2 linked regions of the Homo sapiens genome follow. The protein of the gene in region 1 interacts with the protein of each later gene in a pairwise test. Each region holds a gene or a part of one and is shown on either strand. Other genes may lie near its edges. The genes, in order: TBL1XR1 and ARL2.

Region 1 (3,912 bases):
CAAAACCATCCATTTTCATCTAAGAAACTAACAAATTTTTCTTCCTTTGCAACTCTGGCAGCACTAAAATTTAAATGAACAGTTAAATGTGACTATAGCACACCTAAATCTTTAAGGTCTAACTCAAAAAGAAGATGCTGCCACATTACAGTGGAACAGGGCTGTCACTGCTCCCATTTTAACACAGGCCCTCACAATCCATTTTAACATGAAAATGGTATTAAGAACTCTGCCAAATGCTGGAAGGAAAAAGGTCCATCCGTTCAAGAAACATCGTAGTTGGGGCAACAAAACAATAAACAGTTATGGGATTTGTGATCTTCATTAAGTGCAATGGAATCTCAGAGAAGAAATATCCTGAGTCAGGATGGCCAGAAAAGGATTCATGGAAGAAGGGGGACTGAAACTAGGCTATAAGAAGGACAAAGGGAACAACAGCATGCACAAAAGCAAAGTAGTGAGTATGGCAAAAACTACCGTATTTGAGAGGCCGGCAAGAATCCCAACTAAGAGTGAGAAATAAAGCTGAATAGGTAGAATGGAACCTTCTTAAAAGCCAGACTGAAGCATACAAATTCAATCCAGTTGGCAAAGAGAATCCATTATGGGTTCTCCAGCAGGGGAACTGACAAGATGAAACCAGTACTTTAAATAAATTACACTGTCAGTAGTTACAGAAGATAAAATGAATAAGAAAGGTTGCTCAGGGCAACCAAATAAAAACTTAATAATCCAGACCTACAACCATTCATTCATTGAGAAGACAGACTGCTAGGTAACAACACTGGCCTAGAATTCACACAAACTGGGCCTAAATTCCTGCTCTGTCCCCTACTACCTGAGCCTCAATTTTCTCACTGTTAAATTCAGGCATCAGCACTCAGACTGTCACAGTACTTGTCAAAGCACCTGTATAGTCCTGATACATAGAACTTTTGACTATTAGCAAAGTGAACACTAGTGCTAAATTAAGTATGGTTAAAAATGGGAAGTGAACATAAGATAAGGCTCATAGAGGAACTGAACTTCTAAGGACAACTATCTAGACAGCATCTGATAATACGGAAAAGAATACACAGATAAAAAGTGGTCAGGAAAAATAAAATAAAACCACCTACCCAAAGTAATCACTACAGCCTAAAAGGCAGACCCTAGGTTCTGCTGGACCCAAACCTTGAAAGAGTTCCCTTTGTATTTAAAGAGTTTGCCTGGCACGGTGGCTCATGCCTGTAATCCCAGCACTTTGGGAGGCCGAGACGGGCGGTCAGGAGTTCGAGACCAGCCTGACCAACATGGTGAAACCCCATCTCTACTAAAGATACAAGAAATTAGCCAGGCAAGTGACAGGCGCCTGTAATCCCAGCTACTTGGGAGGCTGAGGTAGGGGAATCGCTTGAACCCGGGAGGCAGAGGTTGCAGTGAGCCGAGATCGCACCATTGCACTCCAGCATGGGTGACAGAGCAAGACTCTGTCTCAAAAAAAAAAAAAAAAGAGTTGAAGCTGGGCGCGGTGGCTCACGCCTGTAATCCCAGCACTTTGGGAGGCCAAAGCGGGCAGATCACAAGGTCAAGAGATGGAGACCACATGGTGAAACCCCGTCTCTACTAAAAATACAAAAATTAGCTGGGCGTGGTGGCGCATGCCTATAATCCCAGCTAGGAGGCTGAGGCAGGAGAATCGCTTGAACCCAGGAGGCGCGAGGTTGCAGTAAGAGGAGATCGCGCCATTGCACTCCAACCTGCACTCCAACCTGGGCAACAAACAAAGTGAGACTTTATCTCAAAAAAAAAAAAAAAAGAAAGAAAGTAAGTTGAAAAATGTTTCAAATGGTGCAAGTAGGCTTAAGAAGTCCAACCCAGATGACAGAATAGCAACAAAGGCATGCAAAAAAGATCCACCACCGTACCTACACCAATCATGTAAATTATTCATAGTATATGTAAGCCTTAAACCACAACTTTTTAAGAGTAAAAAAAACCAAGCTAAGTTTACTTCAAATGGGTTACTTAGGAAATGGAGCTATCAAATCCTTCCTATGACATTATGCCCCTACTAAAATAAATAACAAGCAAATAAAATGTAATACAAAGAAACAAACTTCAAAAATCAAACCTATCAGGAGCAACTTACACTTACAGGATGCTTAGAATGTCAACCATTGTTCTAAGTACCTCTCACACACTAACTGGATCTTCTTAACTCTATGAAAGTTGACTGTCCCCTTACACTGATGAAGAAACAAACACATTAGGGCCAGGCGCAATGTGGCTCATGCCTATAATCCCAGCCCTTTGGGAGGCCGAGGCAGGCACGTTACCTGAGGTCAGGAGTTCGAGACCAGCCTGGCCAACATGCTGAAACCCCATCTCTACTAAAAACACAAAAATTAGCCGGGAGTGGTGGCAAGCACCTGTAATCCCAGCTACTTGGGAGGCTGAGGCAGGAGAATCACTTGAACCCAGGAGGCGGAGGTTGCAGTGAGCCGAGATCGCGCCACTGCACTCCAGCCTGGGCAACAGAGCGAAACTCCGTCTCAAAAAAATAAAATAAAATAAAATTTTAAAAAATAAATAAAACGTATGAGGAGCTACTACCCCAACATCACAGCTAGTAAAGGATAGAGCCTGAGTTTGAACTCACTTTAACCACTATGCTACAACACAAAGACTTCAATGATTTTTCTTACACAAATTTTTTGTTTGTTTGTTTTTGAGAGGGTGTCTCCCTCTATCGCCCAGGCTGGAGTGCAATGGCGCGATCTTGGCTCACTGCAACCTCCACCTCCTGGGTTCAAGCGATTCTCCCACCTCAGCCTCCCGAGTAGCTGGGACTACAGGTACCCGCCACCACGCCCAGCTAATTTGTGTATTTTTAGTAGAGACGGGGATTCACCATGCTGGCCAAGATGGTCTCAATCTCTTGACCTCGTGATCCGCCCGCCTTGGCCTTCCAAAGTGCTTGGATTACAGGCGTGAGCCACTGCACCCAGCAAGACTGCATCTTATTAAATGGTGCTAGGGAATTCAGCACAATGATATGAGTTCTATCAATTTCATTTACCCATGTAATCACTCGACCCATTTAGTACAGACGCTCAACTATAGATCATAAACTTGATTAGAAACACAAGTTTTTGGAAGGATGATCTACACGGATCAAGACTAACAAAACAGCTGGGAAAATTCCGCAGATTCAGTCATCTAAGACAGACCCAGGTTTGAATCCTAGTGTTCATTTAATAATTTTGTGGCCTTGAACAAGGGAATTAACTTCTTTGCATCTCTGTTTCATCATCCACAAAAAAAGCCCAACACTATCTACCTCATAGGATTAGCCTAGGGTATAAACAGCATAGAAAGCACCTCACACCTCCTAGAGCATAGCCCGGAGCACCTAGTCCCTCTCCTCTGGCTCTATGGTTACAGGGCAATTAATTGCACTCTTACCGAATCCAATCCCAGAGGGGTAAACAGCCAAATCTCTCCAGCATCAGCGCTCTCAGAGTCTTTTCTTTTTAACTTCAAGTTTCTATTGGTGGCAGAGCAGGAGATACCACCTTCGTGGTACCTAAACTGAACGATACTCAACAATTCTTTACTACACAGCTCTAGGGTCCTAGCCCTCCTCTACTACCAGAATGTCTGAGCATAAAGTATAAATGTCTCGTGTTAGCTGCTTTCCTTTTTTGCATTTCAGTGACTTATACTGTAAATGTTATTTGTGAAATGAGTCCAATTCACATGCACTAGAAAAATACAAGTTCTAGTGAATACCAATGTTTCTGCCATGCCTCTCCCCTGACTTCCTACCATTCACATTCTTCTTTATTCTTTTTATATAAATGACACCAAAAATTGAACAAACCCAACAAATTATTTCAACCAACTTCATCAAAATGTGTCAAGTCAGGA
Region 2 (3,912 bases), on another chromosome or scaffold:
CCTGTAAAAGGAAAGATATAAATGAATAACTAGATGGGGCAGAGAGATCAAGGGCTTTGTTTGCTCTTTTTTTTTTTTTAATCAGACGGGGTCTCGCTGAGTCGCCCAGGCTGGAGTACAGTGGTGTGATCTCGGCTCATTGCAACCTCTGCCTGCCGGGTTCAAGCAATTCTCCTGTCTCAGCCTCCCGAGTAGCTGGGACTATAGGGGCCCGCCACCACGCCTGGCTGATTTTTGTAGTTTTAGTAGAGATGGGGTTTCACCTTGTTGGTCAGGCTGGTTTCGAACTCCTGACCTCAGATGATCCACCCACCTTGGCCTCCCAAAGTGCTGGGATTACAGGTGTGAGCCACCGCGCCCGGCCTATTTGCTCTTTTTAAGGTGGGAGAAAGAACGGCAAGCTCATCAGCCAGTGGGAATGATCAAGAGGGGAAGGAAACATGGATGATGGCTTGGGGGCAGGGGGTCATCAGCGGCTAGGTTCCAGGGGCTAAGGCTGGGCCTCAGGGGAAATGCCCTCCTCACCCCTCTCCTGGGCCTAGGTCATTTGCCCCAGCTCCGATGAGCAGGGAAAGGTGGTCGAGTCCAGGACCCGCCCACCCCACCATGCCCAACTGAGCTGCAGTGTTGGGAAGATAGAGGAGGGTGGTTCCTTCCACAGGTAAGCACACCCATTAATTTGCACTGTGCAGTAGCAGGTCTGGAATATTCCAGAAACAAATGAGGGTGGCTGCCTCCAGATATTTGTTCTTACCTTAGTTCTTCAAAAAGCTTGCTCCTTGTATTTTGGGTCTCAGCTCCAGACACCTCAGAGAGGCCTTCCCCGGCACCTGAGCTGAAAGAGCCTCCTCCGATGGCCCTCTTGGAAAGCCTCTCTGTTGTGTTGATGGCGCTAGCCGGGATCTGGCAGGGCCTTCTTTTCTCATTTGTTTGTACTTTATTGACTGTCTTCCCGCTAGAGTGTAAGCTTCCTAAGGGCAGGGCTTTGTCCTCTAGCACCCAGAAGAGGGTCTGGCACATAGTAGGTGTTCAACAAATTAAGGAGCCTTTGGTCAGTAGAGATGATATTTATAATTTGATACTTTCATATTTATTGTGGGCCGATTATGGTCAGGCATGTGCTCAACTCAGTTTGATACATGGTGGGAAATAATGAGTCCCCTAAGGGGCTCTGCAACAATGTCACCACCTGGCAGAGAACAGGGACTTCTCCTTAACCTGCTGCGCCCCAGTGGCCTGGACAATGCTGGAAAGACAACCATCCTGAAGAAGTTCAATGGGGAGGACATCGACACCATCTCCCCAACGCTGGGCTTCAACATCAAGACCCTGGAGCACCGAGGGTGAGCAGGGGCCCCATGGGAGGGCCAGCCCAGAGCAGGGCAGGGAAGGTGGGAGAGGGGCCCAGCTGACCCTCCTGTCACCCGCTCCTTGCCCAGATTCAAGCTGAACATCTGGGATGTGGGTGGCCAGAAGTCCCTGCGGTCCTACTGGCGGAACTACTTTGAGAGCACCGATGGCCTCATCTGGGTAGTGGACAGCGCAGACCGCCAGCGCATGCAGGACTGCCAGCGGGAGCTCCAGAGCCTGCTGGTGGAGGAGGTGGGCAGCTCCTACCCTTTGTGTACATGTATGGACGTGTGGCTGCCTTCTCAGCAGATGCCCAGAGGGGCCCGTGGCCCCAGAGGGAAACCAGAGGCAGGATCCCTTCCTTCTCTGGGCCCCCACCATGGGAGGCCCATGGTGCCAGAGGCAGGACACATGCTGTGGACTGAGATTGAGTTAACGTCCCTGTGGTGTTACTACGTCACTACCCTGAGCATCAGTTTCTATGCCTTGAAATGGTGATGATGACACCCACATCACTGGGCTTTAGGGAGGATAACCCAAGGCCAGTATGAAGCTTCGAGAGGCCATGGAGCCTGGCTCAAGAGTCTGACTCTTTGCTGTGTGACCTCAGCTGGGGGTGGTGGCACGCACCTATAGTCCTAGCTACTCTGGAGGCTCAGACAGGAGGATCAGTTGAGCCCAGGAGGTTGAGGCTGCAGTGAGCTGTGATCGTGCCACTGCACTCCAGCCTCCTGGGCGACAGAGCAAGACCCTGTCTCAAAAAAAAAAAAAAAGGAAGGGGCCAGGTGCGGTGGCTCACGCCTGTAATCCCAGCACTTTGGGAGGCTGAAGCGGGCGGATCACGAGGTCAGGAGATCGAGACCGTCCTGGCTAACATGGTGAAACCCCGTGTCTACTAAAAATACAAAAAATTAGCCAGGCATGGTGGCGGGCGCCTGTAGTCCCAGCTACTCAGGAGGCTGAGGCAGGAAAATGGCGTGAACCTGGGAGGCGGAGCTTGCAGTGAGCCGAGATTGTGCCACTGCACTCCAGCCTGGGCAACAGAGTGAGACTCCGTCTCAAAAAAAAAAAAGAAGGACACTTGCAAAGATAGTACAGAGGTCAGAGGTCCCCCATATACCCTTTACCTTGCTTCCCCATCTTACCTAACCGTGGCCTGTCCAAACTAATAAATCAACACTGGTGAATTACTATTATCTTAATTACAGATTTTATTTGAATTTCACGTTTTTCCACTAATATACTTTTTGTGTTCCAATGTTTGATTCAGGCTACAAAATTGCATTTAGTTGAAAATGAGGACACTTGTGAGAGTGAAAGGGGGGATTCTGCAGGCAGAGTGGGGACTGTCCTGGGCACACCGCACACATCTCCTATGTGGGTGGAGCAGGTCAGATGAGATCAGGGCCGTCAAATGCTGGTCAAGGCAGGTCAAGGCCCAAGGGTTAGACCCGTCCACCCACATCTCTCCCAATCACAGACACATATGTGGAAACAACTAGAATCAGAGGTGGACAGTGAGGCCTGTCGGGAGTGGAACGGTTAAAGGGCTGTGTGAACCCAGAAGAGGGAGAGTTCACATCCTCTGTGCATGTCTGGTCATCAGATTGGAGCAGTCTAGAACCACGGAGAGCTCAGGGATCATCTTATGCAACACCCCTCCCTGTTCATGGAAGAGGAAGCTGGAGCATGGGGACAGCGGTGTCCCCTGGGTGGTGGTTGGCTGGAACCAGAACCCTGGCCCAGGGCTGCTCCATTCATGTGGGCCAGCCTTGATGGCTACGTCCACAAACTCACTCCTGGGCCTCTCCCACCACCACGGGGCCTCACCTTGATCTTCCAGGTCGATCCTTCACCCCAGATGCTCTGGGCCATTAGAGGAGGGGTCAGGCTGTCCTCTGAGTCCCCACCCCACCCCTCTATCTTTTCTCCCCCAGCGCCTGGCCGGAGCAACCCTCCTCATCTTTGCTAATAAGCAGGACCTGCCTGGAGCACTGTCCTCTAACGCCATCCGCGAGGTGAGTCCAGGCCCCGGGACAGGCTCGCTGAGGGAAAGGGGCATACATTTATTTATTTTAAAAGCATTTATTAAAAATAACCAAAAAGGCTGGGTGCAGTGGCTCACGCCTGTAATACCAGCACTTTGGGAGGCCAAGGCGAGTGGATCACCTGAGGTCAGGAGTTCGAGACCAGCCTGACCAACATGATGAAACCCCGTCTGTACTAAAAATACAAAAATTAGCTGGGTGCAGTGGCGTGCGCCTGTAAGCCCAGCTACTCAGGAGGCTGAGACAGGAGAATCGCTTGAACCCAGGACGTGGAGGTTGCAGTGAGCCAAGATTGCGCCATTGTACTCTAGCCTGTGGGAAAAGAGTGAGACTTCGTCTCAAAAAAAAAAAAAAAAAGAAAGAAGTAAAATAATAATAAGAAAAGCATTTATTAGCCTAGCCCTGCTAGGTGGCAGGACCTATGCAGGGCACTGGGGATCCAGTGATTAATAAGGCATGGGGTGGCCCACAGCCTGGGGAAGGCAGAGCTGCGCATGTGTTGTTCACAGGCTAA

What was found.
Region 2: the proteins of TBL1XR1 (region 1) and ARL2 interact in binary tests that used the Homo sapiens proteins (3 or more experiments, as listed by UniProt).

The regions. Positions count from the first base shown.
Region 1 is NC_000003.12:177,190,617-177,194,528, forward strand, and holds part of TBL1XR1 (F-box-like/WD repeat-containing protein TBL1XR1), read right to left. Parts: intron 1-3,912. UniProt on the Homo sapiens protein: F-box-like protein involved in the recruitment of the ubiquitin/19S proteasome complex to nuclear receptor-regulated transcription units. Plays an essential role in transcription activation mediated by nuclear receptors.
Region 2 is NC_000011.10:65,017,132-65,021,043, forward strand, and holds part of ARL2 (ADP-ribosylation factor-like protein 2), read left to right. Parts: intron 1-1,232; coding exon 1,233-1,343; intron 1,344-1,373; exon of another isoform or gene 1,374-1,439; coding exon 1,440-1,602; intron 1,603-3,287; coding exon 3,288-3,368; intron 3,369-3,912. UniProt on the Homo sapiens protein: Small GTP-binding protein which cycles between an inactive GDP-bound and an active GTP-bound form, and the rate of cycling is regulated by guanine nucleotide exchange factors (GEF) and GTPase-activating proteins (GAP).